Homo sapiens: one gene and its partner. The protein of the gene in region 1 interacts with the protein of each later gene in a pairwise test. Each region holds a gene or a part of one and is shown on either strand. Other genes may lie near its edges.

Region 1 (7,088 bases):
GAACTGCTCACTCTTTACGGGGCCTGACCTCTTTGGGAGAGCTGGGGGACTGCAGACAGAGCAAGAGAGAAGTTTACTGTGATATATACCAGAAAATTACATTTACTTTGACTTCTGCTTTTATTCATTAATAGTACACATTTGTAGATGTCTGTGTGAGAGATCAAGGTTAGATCCATCATGAGAAAAAAATTAGAATGATAGAGAATTTGTTTCAGGTCTGAGACAACTGAATTCCCTCTGTCTTCTGAAGGTAATCACGGTGACTGAGTGGGGCTGAAGATTGGGCTTCCAGTGCTTAGGGAAGAGGCCCGAGGTGGACAGAGGCAGGCCTTCAAATCCAATTTGCACCCAAATTGGCTGGTAGGATATACAAAGCCCCATCCAGAGACTTTCAACTTGCACAATACTCTGTCCAGGACCCCCCTCCCCCTCCATTTCAAATAGTAGCAGTTCTTTAAAAAAGCTATTGCTGAGACAAACACGGGGTGCTGAGTAAACAGTGCATGTTTTGTTGAACAAGCTATATATATATACATATATACACACACACACATATATATGTGTGTGAGTATATATATATATCACCATCTCGACATAAAGTGCAATTGAAATTATTAAAAGGAATTAAAACTCACTTCTTGCCAGATTACAAATAACTTTTGTCATTAGGAAGAATAGATTTTTAAATATTACATTAAACTATATACTATTTATGCCCATAAGAATATCCTATTTTGAGAGACTTGCATTCATGCAATCCTTAAACTATATAACATAGCCTTAATTTGAATGAAAAACATTTTCCCAGTCAATATGAGCTCCTAGCATATAAAATCAGATTATTACAGTGCTCATTAGCAAACCCCAGTTTTTGCTATTTGAAAGTAAACAGAAGAAAAACTTATTTCCACCTGCTAAAATTTTATACAGGATTACAAAACAATGCACGCTCAGATTTGACCTAAGAAACACCTTAAAACATTAAAAATTCATCAGTCAGAGCTGGTGTTGTATTGAAGGAAAGCTCCTCCAGTTTGCTGCTGAGCTCGGATTTGAATAAAATGTCCAATGTTAACAAACAATACCCACGTTTGGCACTTTGTGTATTAAATTGATCAAACAGATTTTAGGAGGCACAATGCACAATTTGTACAGACCTGATTGAGTTAATATAATATCAGCAAATTTTACATCGAAATGATTCTGTTTCTTTTCTTTGTGTTTAAAACCAGCACAGATTACAAATTTTAATGATCTGAAAATGTTTGGTATACAAAATCATGCTTATTTCAGTATTAGCAAAAACACAAGAAATTTTTCAACACAAACACCCAGCTGTGTCTATTTTAAAAGCAGTTCAATGACAGCTTGCACTTATGAGCATGCAATCAGCTAATTTCGTTTTTTTTTTCTTCTGTGTTAATCAACACTTTCCTTCCTGCATATCAGAGTACAAATAGTATAGTTACTCCACATCAGTAAATGTTTACGTAACCTGTCCTTTCCCAAGAATCCGGTTACACCGAATCATTTCACGCTAGACCGACTACGAAAACGTACCGGGCCGTCCACCTCAGAGGGAGCCCTGTGTGCCATTATAAGTGGTGGTGAGAAGGGGGGCTGTAAGAGGAGAAATTGGGAGGAGTAGGTGGAGGAATGGAGAGACAGAGGAATGGAGGGTGGGGGGAAGGGGCGGGGGGAGCTAAGGGAGAAGGAGGGAGGAGGGAGGAAGGAGAGTTGAGGAAAAGTAGGAAGAACGGGCCTGAAGAGGGGAGAAGAGTGGGAGGAGGAAAAGTGAGTAGGAAGGGGAAGGCCCACAAATCTCTCCAGCCGGTAGGCAAAGCCCATTAGCTCACCCGGCCCTGCGAGAAATCCAGAGCTTGGAAATAAATGTTTGGGACCATGTCACTATCAACACTGATTGTTGGAACCCTTGAATTTTTCCACATGTAAATACAGTTTGTTTTAAAGTGAGAAGATATGTAGACATAGGTAAAGATACATACATACAGTGGAAGGACATTTGAGGTTAGTCCAATATTCAAAGCTCCTTTGTGGCATTCCTAATAGATGCATATTTAAAATTCACTAGCTATTTGTAATTATCTATTATTCTCTCCAGTTTCCTCCCCCCCCCCCAACCTTTTCTCTCTTTCTCTTTCTTAAGACTGGGGGTGGGGAGGATGGAATAACCCCCTATTATCCTGAGTATTCATCAACCGCATTCTTTATGTTACAATTTAACTTTAGGATCAAGCATAAGCACCAATTTTCCTTCCTTCGTTTTCTTAAATACCAAATCTGCCAGATATCTTAATGAAAGTTTATCCAAGTGAAGAAATGCTTACATTTTATAATTATTTACCTTCTAGAGGAAGGAAAAGGTGCCTTTCATTTATGCTTCTCCACCTCCCTCTTCTCTGGGGCTACATCCTCCGTAAAATGTGGTATGTTTCGTGCCCATGTGGGATGAAACAGCCTTTGATCAATGTGCTCCCCACTAAATTCCAATCCCTGGGAAATGCTGGGCCTTAGCCCTGCCCCTGGCCACGGGATCCTTTTAAAGCCCCCGATTCGCAATTTCCCCATTCACTTCAACCTCCAACCGAACCTTCCCAGTTCCAAAGCCCAAGAAGCTGGGACTGTGAGATCCACGTTCCCAAGGCTCCCCGGTGCTTTCCAGCAGCACTCAGGGTTGGCAAGAGCTGGCTTCAGTATACTGTTATTTCAGGAATGAGGCCCGCACAAAATAAAAGCATTTGAGAAACGGAAAGGAAAAAAAAGGAGTGAAAATAGGAAGGCTTAAAAAAAAAACCGGAAAGAAATAGACGCCCACCCTTATTTTCCCTCCAATGTCAACAAGCAAAACGAAAATATTTCCAGGGTGATCGCTCGCAGCTACCCGCTTCCAATTCGGATTAGAAGCTGAGGCTGGAGCGGCGAGGAGAAAACGACATCGAGTCACCCCGCGCGTGAGCGACGCTCTGGAGCAGGAGAGAAGGAAAAGGAAGAGACACACGTATATAGCATGTGTTACCTGATTTATTTCGAGATTGTTTGGTACTGTTTTCTCTCTGGGCACCTCTCATTTCGGAAGGCCATCAGAGGCGCCCACTACTGAGCGGCCCCGGCCGCCGCAGCAGCACCCGGAGCCCCAGTCCCGGTTTCCCCGCGGTGCCGGAGCCCGGAGCTCGCCGCCGCCCAGGCCTCAGGAATCGAGTAAGTAACCCCTGTTTGGCCCCGCGCTCCTCTGCCCACTTCCTCCTCCTCATCTCATCGCTCCCAAAGCTCTCCCACACCCTCCTCCCCCGAAGTAAAGGACACCCCCGCACACACGCCAGCGGTGGGCCTTATCTCCCCCCTTATCCAAAGCTGCGCTAGACTATTACCTACAAAGGGCACAATTTTCCTGCTGGCTCAGAAATGCCAGACACTGGCCTGCAAGGCCGACTCGGAAAAGTAGTGCCTCGCCTCTACCTCCTCCATTTCCTGCCCTCTCGCATCCTCTCCCTGCACTCCCACTCTTCCCACTACCACCACCACCCCCGCTTTCAAAAATAAAATTGGATACAAACTTTAATCACTAAGGACAAATATTGACGCTTAAACGAAAATGACCCAGTACAATGAGGAGGAAGCCGGAAATGTGAGCTATTGGCCCTAGGAGGGGAATTTCGGTGGAGCGGAGCCGGCGGGGTGGAGGGGGTGGCGGGGGCGCAGGGAAGGGCTGCGGCACCGCGTGCTCCCGCCGGCGTATCCCTACGCGGCTCCGCGCGGCCTCGGGGTCCGAGGCCCGCGGAGAGGGGGAGGCGAGCGCCCGAGGGGGCGGCAGCCGGCGGGCGGGGCGGGGGTGGGTGGGCCCGGCCCCTCCGATTGGTCGACGGCGAGAGAGACGCTCCCGCACGCCGCCAGCTCTGATTGGCCCAGCGGTAGGAAAGGTTAAACCAAAAATTTTTTTACAGCCCTAGTGTGCGCCTGTAGCTCGGAAAATTAATTGTGGCTATAGCCGCCTCGATCGCTGTCTCCCCAGCCTCGCCGCGGCCGCTCCGGGACGCGCCCGCCCGCCGCCCGGCTCTCCCCCCCTTTGGGCTGCTGCTGCTGCTGCTGTGACTGCTGCTGCGAGAGGAGGAGGAGGAGGAGGAAGCAGCGGGGGGGGGAGCGGGGGGTGGGGGGGGAGACCAAGAAGTACAGTTGGGAGCGAGGGAGCTTCACCCCCGGGGCGGTGGTTGTTTCTTTTTTCTTTCTTTCTTTTTTCTTTTCCTTTTTTTTTTTTTTTCTAATTCCTGAGGGGTGGTTGCTGCTTTTGCTACATGACTTGCCAGCGCCCGAGCCTGCGGTCCAACTGCGCTGCTGCCGGAGCGCTCAGTGCCGCCGCTGCCGCCCGCGCCCCCCGCGCCCCGTTCGGCACCCACCGGTCGCCGCCGCCCGCCGCGCCGCTGTCCCGCTCCCGCGCCGCCGCCGCCGTTTCCCCCCGACGACTGGGTGATGCTGGACATGGGAGATAGGAAAGAGGTGAAAATGATCCCCAAGTCCTCGTTCAGCATCAACAGCCTGGTGCCCGAGGCGGTCCAGAACGACAACCACCACGCGAGCCACGGCCACCACAACAGCCACCACCCCCAGCACCACCACCACCACCACCACCATCACCACCACCCGCCGCCGCCCGCCCCGCAACCGCCGCCGCCGCCGCAGCAGCAGCAGCCGCCGCCGCCGCCGCCCCCGGCACCGCAGCCCCCCCAGACGCGGGGCGCCCCGGCCGCCGACGACGACAAGGGCCCCCAGCAGCTGCTGCTCCCGCCGCCGCCACCGCCACCACCGGCCGCCGCCCTGGACGGGGCTAAAGCGGACGGGCTGGGCGGCAAGGGCGAGCCGGGCGGCGGGCCGGGGGAGCTGGCGCCCGTCGGGCCGGACGAGAAGGAGAAGGGCGCCGGCGCCGGGGGGGAGGAGAAGAAGGGGGCGGGCGAGGGCGGCAAGGACGGGGAGGGGGGCAAGGAGGGCGAGAAGAAGAACGGCAAGTACGAGAAGCCGCCGTTCAGCTACAACGCGCTCATCATGATGGCCATCCGGCAGAGCCCCGAGAAGCGGCTCACGCTCAACGGCATCTACGAGTTCATCATGAAGAACTTCCCTTACTACCGCGAGAACAAGCAGGGCTGGCAGAACTCCATCCGCCACAATCTGTCCCTCAACAAGTGCTTCGTGAAGGTGCCGCGCCACTACGACGACCCGGGCAAGGGCAACTACTGGATGCTGGACCCGTCGAGCGACGACGTGTTCATCGGCGGCACCACGGGCAAGCTGCGGCGCCGCTCCACCACCTCGCGGGCCAAGCTGGCCTTCAAGCGCGGTGCGCGCCTCACCTCCACCGGCCTCACCTTCATGGACCGCGCCGGCTCCCTCTACTGGCCCATGTCGCCCTTCCTGTCCCTGCACCACCCCCGCGCCAGCAGCACTTTGAGTTACAACGGCACCACGTCGGCCTACCCCAGCCACCCCATGCCCTACAGCTCCGTGTTGACTCAGAACTCGCTGGGCAACAACCACTCCTTCTCCACCGCCAACGGCCTGAGCGTGGACCGGCTGGTCAACGGGGAGATCCCGTACGCCACGCACCACCTCACGGCCGCCGCGCTAGCCGCCTCGGTGCCCTGCGGCCTGTCGGTGCCCTGCTCTGGGACCTACTCCCTCAACCCCTGCTCCGTCAACCTGCTCGCGGGCCAGACCAGTTACTTTTTCCCCCACGTCCCGCACCCGTCAATGACTTCGCAGAGCAGCACGTCCATGAGCGCCAGGGCCGCGTCCTCCTCCACGTCGCCGCAGGCCCCCTCGACCCTGCCCTGTGAGTCTTTAAGACCCTCTTTGCCAAGTTTTACGACGGGACTGTCTGGGGGACTGTCTGATTATTTCACACATCAAAATCAGGGGTCTTCTTCCAACCCTTTAATACATTAACATCCCTGGGACCAGACTGTAAGTGAACGTTTTACACACATTTGCATTGTAAATGATAATTAAAAAAATAAGTCCAGGTATTTTTTATTAAGCCCCCCCCTCCCATTTCTGTACGTTTGTTCAGTCTCTAGGGTTGTTTATTATTCTAACAAGGTGTGGAGTGTCAGCGAGGTGCAATGTGGGGAGAATACATTGTAGAATATAAGGTTTGGAAGTCAAATTATAGTAGAATGTGTATCTAAATAGTGACTGCTTTGCCATTTCATTCAAACCTGACAAGTCTATCTCTAAGAGCCGCCAGATTTCCATGTGTGCAGTATTATAAGTTATCATGGAACTATATGGTGGACGCAGACCTTGAGAACAACCTAAATTATGGGGAGAATTTTAAAATGTTAAACTGTAATTTGTATTTAAAAAGCATTCGTAGTAAAGGTGCCCAAGAAATTATTTTGGCCATTTATTGTTTTGTCCTTTTCTTTAAAGAACTGTTTTTTTTTCTTTTGTTTACTTTTAGACCAAAGATTGGGTTCTAGAAAATGCACTTGGTATACTAAGTATTAAAACAAACAAAAAGGAAAGTTGTTTCAGTTGGCAACACTGCCCATTCAATTGAATCAGAAGGGGACAAAATTAACGATTGCCTTCAGTTTGTGTTGTGTATATTTTGATGTATGTGGTCACTAACAGGTCACTTTTATTTTTTCTAAATGTAGTGAAATGTTAATACCTATTGTACTTATAGGTAAACCTTGCAAATATGTAACCTGTGTTGCGCAAATGCCGCATAAATTTGAGTGATTGTTAATGTTGTCTTAAAATTTCTTGATTGTGATACTGTGGTCATATGCCCGTGTTTGTCACTTACAAAAATGTTTACTATGAACACACAGAAATAAAAAATAGGCTAAATTCATATATATCTTGATACTTTTGTCTCTTTTATTAAGTAGAGCTAATTTTTTAAAGACCAATCAACTTATAGGGAATTCAAAGGCTTTTTCAGCCAAACTAAAATTTAAACTGCTCCTTTAATTTGAACTGACTCTAAAAATGAAAATAGTATTTTTCCCTTTGTGAACAAATTTTACAAGGAGCAGCCTATTTAATAAACACTAGCTTTAAACAAA
Region 2 (7,278 bases), on another chromosome or scaffold:
TTTACCATTGGTTGTGCCTTGTCCCACATTAGGTGCTGTGTCCTCGATGTGATATTGGCCTTTTGGGATTGAAAAGGAAGCAGAGAAAGTTAAAGGAGCCCTTGCCAAATGGAAAGAAAAAAAGCACCAAATTAGAGAGTCTGAGTGACCTGGAGAGAGCTTTAACTGAAAGCAAGGAGACTGCTTCAGCTGTATGTAGGGTTTTTTTCTTCTCCTTTCTATGTTATTGGGAAGAATAATTTCTAACCCTTTCTGTTTTATAGGAATTTGGAGAAGGCAAGTAGAGTAACTTGAAAGCGTTCAGTTTTACTAAAAAGACTTTTTGAAAATTGTCAAGTGTTAAGAGTTTTGAATGGTAAGATGCATAGAGGTGGGAAAGATTCAGGGTAGGCTTCCCAGTCTCAGGGTCTTGCAGGCACAGAAACAGTCTTGTTTAGTGCCTGTGGGTTGATCCAGGAATGCTAACTAAAGATATTGAGACTAATATTAATAGATGTATGAAAATGCAATGCTAATTTATTAGTTTATAGTTAAGAAGTACATTTAAAAGTTTACTGGATACTTTGATACTCATCTGGAATACCTTACATCTCTGACCTGCATTTAGTAAATACTGTTGATTCAAAGATGATAGTTTAAAGAAGATGAGGCAATGTATAACTAATGTTACACATTAAGCACCTTATCGGGATAAAAAAGGGATAGCTATGTGATGCTTTTAATGGCACAAAGCATTGCCCGTTCTAGAGTGGGAATGTATACCTGCTACTGGGACTAGATTGAATGGGTTCATCTGTGGATCTGGACACCTTCTCCCATTGATTTCTTTGTAGCTGCCAGACCTCTTGTGATAGACATGGGTTGCCTTGATTTATTTAGGTATTTTGACACAGATGTTCTTAGTGTATATTCGTATATTCAGTCAGGTTCTAGACAGAATTCTGCCATCAGAGGTCCTCCATTCCATCTGTGGTTTGTTTTTATAAAGACTAACTGAAAGTTACAGTCCCCCTCTCCTGAGGTGTATATATGTTGGTTTGAAACTTTATATGCAGTATCTTTTGTAGATTTTAGTCTGTCCATCTGTCTGTAGACCCCTGGTTTTAAGAATTCTCCCTACGTATTATCTGTTAATTTATGGTAGAACTCAAAGGTTAGTCATTTGCTTTCCATCTCTAAGCTGTCAGAAGTTACCTTGTTATCATATAACCCACACATATTACCTGTGTATTATATTTACAAAAGAAGTGGATTTTTTTTTTTTTTTAATATACCCAAAGGTCTTTACCTGATTTGCTTTTAGGCTTTTTTTTTTTTTTTTTAATAGAGATAATGGAGAGTTTATTCTGGCCTTGTAAGGGTGCTTCATCTGGTGAATCGTGATGGATCTGAAAGGGGATAGATGTGGTGATTGGAAATGGTTTTTTAACTGTGACAGATTTTTTGAGAACTTGTTTACTATGTGCCAGGCAAAGAGTGTCCTATCCCACATCTCTTACTTGTCATCTCACCCTGTAAGGTGGGCACTATTATCACCTCCATTTTACACATGCAGAAATTTAGCCACAATGGAATACATGGCACCAGGTCACTCACAGCTTAGTATGAGGCAGTCAGGATTTGAATACAGATGATCTACTCAGGATCCCATGCTCTTAACCACTAGGACTCTGAGTTTTAGGGGAAGGCCAAGCCATCTCGGACATCATCCTTGATTGTTAACTCTTTTTCAGATGGCAACTCTTGGGGAAGCTCGCCTAAGGGAAATGGAAGCCTTGCAGTCTCTCAGACTCGCCAATGAAGGGAAATTGCTGTCGCCTCTCCAAGATGTGGATATAAAAATCTGCCTATGTCAGAAGGCCCCAGCTGCCCCTATGATTCAATGTGAACTCTGCAGGGATGCTTTCCACACCAGTTGTGTGGCGGTACCCAGTATTTCACAGGGCCTGCGAATCTGGCTTTGTCCCCATTGTCGGAGGTCAGAGAAACCTCCATTAGAGAAAATTCTGCCCCTGCTCGCCTCCCTTCAGCGTATCCGAGTTCGCCTTCCTGAGGGAGATGCACTTCGATATATGATTGAAAGAACCGTGAACTGGCAGCACAGAGCCCAGCAACTGCTTTCGTCAGGGAATCTTAAATTTGTGCAAGATCGAGTGGGCTCAGGACTGTTATATAGCAGATGGCAAGCCTCAGCAGGACAGGTGTCAGACACAAACAAGGTGAATCTGGACTTTCCTTGTTGGGTTATTGGAATTTGCAAAGCTCTGTACCTTTCTCTCGAACCTGTAGCTTTGGTGTTGCTATTCCCTTGGTGTGATCACTTTACTGTTAACAGCACCCACTTTACCTGTAGCTTCCCACTTCAAGACCATGCAGGTATAACATATTCTTTTAATTTCCTCTGCTCCTATTAGAAGTTGTTTCCCAGGCACTCTTTCTATAGAGCACATATTTAGCTTTTCACAGATACAAATAATTTTTTCATTTATATGTATGCTGACCCATTTATATTTTACATATACGTATATGATGTATCTTTAAGTCTTTGCTTGACTAAAAAGTTTTTTACCCTGCTTCTTCTCATGTAAGTCAATTAGTAGAAAGGGAAAACACTTCCTGCCTTTTATCGCTTTTTGCCCTTTAAGGGAAAATATTTTTTGGAAGAAGTGTTTGAGCACTGTGTTATTTCAGAGGAAAGCTCCTGGGTTACACACCATTTGCGATCTTTCTGCCAAAAGCTGGATTCTTTTGACATCACTGGATGGGCAGAGTTTTCTGTTATCTTCCATAGGTGGCTGCAGTAAAAGAATGTGAAGACAATAGAAAAGTACAATCAGGAAGACAGTATTCAATCTTTATGAGGTTAATCTGATGGTTTTTAAAGTTGGTAAACATCTCTGTACCAGAGATACCACAACTCTCTTGTGCCATATGAGCACAGACACATGGATTATATGAGTTAAATTGTTGATAAGATGAAGACCAAACAAAAAAAAAAACAGTCTGTCATATTTGTTTCCTTGGTTTTTTATTTCTTTGCAGGCTTCTGAAATACAGTGCCTGACACATAGATGATGAATTAAATATTTGTTGCATAGATGAGTTGTGGCATTTGTGCACACTCCCAAAGTGGAGTCATTGGTGTTCTTTACCCAGGATGTGCTAGGAGTTTACCTTTCTTAGTAAAGGGAAAGGACACAACTCTTATATTAATTCATGGTCAAAGGAGTGTTTCCCCTAGCTCCTTTAATAAAACACTAAGGAAGATAGGAAAGTGGTTATGGATGATTTCTGACAGGTCCTCATTTGATTTACTCAAAGGGGTACATATGTGTTCATCGTATTTTAATCTTCAATAAGGAGAATTAGAAAAGGATTAAAAGGCTGTATGATCTGTTCTCACACTGAGAAAGTGGCTTATTTCCCAGTGGCCTTCTTTACATCTCTGAAATCAGTCCAAGTAAAACTGGAAAGATTAAAGGCTTGGTCTTTGGGAAGATATGAGTTGATTTGGCCAGTTCTGAAATGCCAGGAGACTCTTCAGTAGGGGAAAATCAAGTTGTTTTTTTTTTTTTTTCCCCTGGTTGCCTGCCTGGGTAATGCAAGCTACTGTCATTGGACTAATGGGAGTATTTTTAATCCTGAAGAGATTTTATTATAAAACGTTTTCCCTCCATTAGGTATCTCAACCTCCTGGCACAACATCATTTTCTTTGCCTGATGACTGGGACAACAGAACCTCATATTTGCACTCCCCCTTCTCAACTGGACGAAGTTGTATCCCCCTCCATGGTTTGTATTTTGTTATTACGTTGAGGGCTGGATAGTAATGAGTGATCTTGTATTACTAGGTTTTTATTATAGATGATCAAGTACCATAAAAAGGACTTTATGCTGAAATGTAGGATATAGGCTATTATGTATTTGCAAAATAGGGAAGGGATCCTATTTGAAGGCTTATAAATGCAAAGGAACAGAGAGGAAGACTTTATATCCATTGTCCTCAGGGATGAAAGGGTTCATGCCACACCAGCTGATAAACACCAAGCTTTTAAGTCAGATGCTAAGTCATGGGCTCTCTTGTTGCTTCATTACTTAGGAGACTTGTGGAGAATCTTAGGGATAATCCACATTTGCTAGAGTCCTGATCCTTAGTCATAGCATCTCAGTGTATGTCTAGTAATGTGGTTAGAGCTCCTTGATCTACTCAGACTGTTGACACTGTGGCCATCAGTCTGTTTCTGTGCTTTCTGTTAGAAGTCATCAAGGCAGAAGTACAATCTCTTCTGCATTAGCAATAAGGTAAATGAGAAGAGGATTCAGTGTATAATTAATACTAGTAATCAGAAGACTTAGGAAATCTAGTTTTGGCTCTGTTTATTATATTGTGGCTTTAGGCACATTAAACCTCACTTCAACTGAAGGTAATTTGTAATTTAAGAAGGAGAGGGTAGTAGTGGTATTAGGGGCAGTCCTTCTATTTGTCTCATAAACCCAAATGTGAATGTGAAACACCCTTTGTTGTTATCATTTTGATTTGGTCTGGTCTTTTACAGGTGTTAGTCCAGAAGTGAATGAACTATTGATGGAAGCCCAGCTGCTCCAGGTATCCCTTCCTGAAATTCAGGAACTTTACCAGACTTTACTTGCAAAGCCAAGCCCTGCTCAGCAGACTGACCGAAGCTCACCAGTGAGACCCAGCAGTGAGAAGGTGAGTGTCTGAGAGGCTTCTGGGGCAAGGCACAGTCTGGGGTGGGGGTATGCTTTATTTTACTCCTCGAAACATAACCAGACAGCTGGTGTGAGGACTGGGCGATTAGACTGAGGATGACCCATTTTGAATGCTGACTTAGTTGAAGGATACTCCTTAATGTCCTGTTTCTTAACATAGTTAAGGATACTGCGGCTGCTGCCACTTCCTTCTAGTGAACTAACTGACCCATCACATTTAAGGCCCCTGAGAATATAGTTAGGATAGAAATCTACTAGGAAGCCTGAAGCCAAATTAGGGAAGAACTTCACTAAAGATAGCATGAGGGCTGATGTTGGCATTTAGAATTTCATTTTTCATGGCAAATTTCATTTGCCATACCAAGTAGTATGGCACAATCATTGAATGTGTTCAGTTAATGCGCCTTACACCTATAAGGTGTGGGGGTGTACATCCTTCAAGAAGGAAGATTATTAGTGTGGTTCCTCAGGAGCCTGTAGGTCACAGGATAGACATAAACACCTAGACAGAAACTATTATAGTAGTTAGTCATTCAGGGATTTGGTGAAAGGAAGACTCTTAGTGGGCACCTCTCCATCTTCTGGTATTGGTTGGTTAATTGGAAGGGTAATCACGTCTTTAACATTCCTTTTTCCAGTGATCCTTTGGTAGCATTAACAGTGATAGGGGAAGGAAGTATGTTAAACCCAAACTGGTTGTCTTATACAAGACTGGGAGGGGAGTGGTTAAGATGCAGTATTTTTTTCCCGTGTAGATTGGGGGATCATCTGATTTCTAATTTACATGTTCTCTTTAGCTTCATTAGTTTTAGTAATAGGTGACCCATAGGCGAAAATTGAACTTTCCTATCTTCCACCCAGAATGACTGTTGCCGAGGGAAGCGAGATGGAATTAACAGTCTTGAGAGAAAACTGAAGAGACGCCTGGAAAGAGAGGGCCTCTCCAGTGAGCGGTGGGAACGAGTTAAGAAAATGCGGACCCCCAAAAAGAAGAAAATCAAACTGAGCCACCCCAAGGACATGAACAATTTCAAGTTAGAGAGAGAGCGTAGCTATGAATTAGTTCGTTCTGCTGAAACTCATTCCCTGCCCTCAGACACATCCTATTCCGAACAGGAAGACTCTGAGGATGAAGATGCCATCTGCCCAGCTGTGAGCTGCCTGCAGCCAGAAGGAGATGAGGTCAGTGAGGTTTGGGCCATAGAGGACGTGCTTTCCCTTAACTCAGAAACCCTGTAAGCTAGACCTCATCTCGCTGGGTCTTTCTCCTCTGCTTATCTGCTTTGAGCTGATCTGAATGGATTGCTCAGCCCTTCCCCCACTGATATCTGTGCTCTTACCATCGTTCCTGGGTCTCCTCCCTTTTCTTGAAGAAACTCTTGTTCTTCCCTTTTTCCTTTTCTTGCTCTTCCAGCTTTCACCTTCCCGGCGCTAAGAAGGTGGGAGGGATGCTGATGTGATGCCCTTTGGCTTACTTATCACAGGGCAGCGCTGTCTTAACCCCAAAGCAGACACGACTTGAAGAATGACTTTGACTCGGTTGCTTTGGCTAGGGGGCCAGCTACACTCATTTGGCTTAGCTGTTGTGCCAGAGGTCCCAGTGGTGGGACAGTGGCTGTTATTGGCAAACGGCCTGAATTTCTTGAGGCTGGCCTGCCCAATTTTGAATCCATTTTTTCCTCTGAAAACCCCATCTTCCTGCTCTTTGTAACCAGGTGGACTGGGTCCAGTGTGATGGCAGCTGCAATCAGTGGTTTCATCAGGTCTGTGTTGGTGTCTCCCCAGAGATGGCAGAGAAAGAAGACTACATCTGTGTGCGCTGTACTGTGAAGGACGCACCAAGCCGAAAGTAAAAACACAAAAACAGATACCCCCCTACTTAATGTAATTCAGGACTCCAACCAAGAGGATTTCTTCAAATCTCAGCAAAGCTACAGGACTGGTACTCAAGCCAGCCTGTAAACGGTGCTATTTCTATTCCTTATGGGATCATTTTTCCAGGACTCTTTGAAGAAAAGAAAAAACAACTAAAAAAATTTTTGACACTTTTTGTATTTTTTCCTTAAGAGCTATTTGTGGTTGTTGAGGTTTGAAAAGCTGACTGTTTTTTTTGCAGGGGTTCCCACCAATTTGGAAGGCATTGAAGCTTGCACCTTTTCATGTACAGCATTAAAATTTTACCTCTCTCTGGGATTTACCAGCTTAAGAGTCCAACTCACTTCCAGTGCCCAAAAGGGCACCCACCAGAAATTCCAGTAAATCCTCATTTGAGGAAGCTCTCCCTTGTTTACTCTGTTACCACATTGGGGAAATTTTTAAGTTTTTCACTTTGGGAGTTTTTGTTTGTTTCTTCTTTTCCTTTATCCACTTTTCTTCTTCCTGGTAGACTAGGTTTATTTATCTGAGCAATAACTTCTATGTTGGTTTCAGTGGCTGGAATTAAAACAAAACAAAACAAACTTCCAAACAGTGTGTTGGTGCTTTAGCGATTGATTGATGTACAGAACACAAATGTCTAGTTTCTAGTGTCACTGATGAACTAGTGAT

The links.
Region 2: the proteins of FOXG1 (region 1) and KDM5B interact in a two-hybrid assay, tested with the Homo sapiens proteins (one study listed by BioGRID).

What each region holds. Positions count from the first base shown.
Region 1 is NC_000014.9:28,762,792-28,769,879, forward strand, and holds the start of FOXG1 (forkhead box protein G1), read left to right. Parts: upstream 1-3,995; 5' UTR 3,996-4,488; coding exon 4,489-5,958; 3' UTR 5,959-7,088. UniProt on the Homo sapiens protein: Transcription repression factor which plays an important role in the establishment of the regional subdivision of the developing brain and in the development of the telencephalon.
Region 2 is NC_000001.11:202,728,342-202,735,619, reverse strand, and holds part of KDM5B (lysine-specific demethylase 5B), read left to right. Parts: intron 1-32; coding exon 33-191; intron 192-1,733; coding exon 1,734-2,219; intron 2,220-3,680; coding exon 3,681-3,792; intron 3,793-4,556; coding exon 4,557-4,711; intron 4,712-5,592; coding exon 5,593-5,913; intron 5,914-6,446; coding exon 6,447-6,584; 3' UTR 6,585-7,278. UniProt on the Homo sapiens protein: Histone demethylase that demethylates 'Lys-4' of histone H3, thereby playing a central role in histone code. Does not demethylate histone H3 'Lys-9' or H3 'Lys-27'. Demethylates trimethylated, dimethylated and monomethylated H3 'Lys-4'.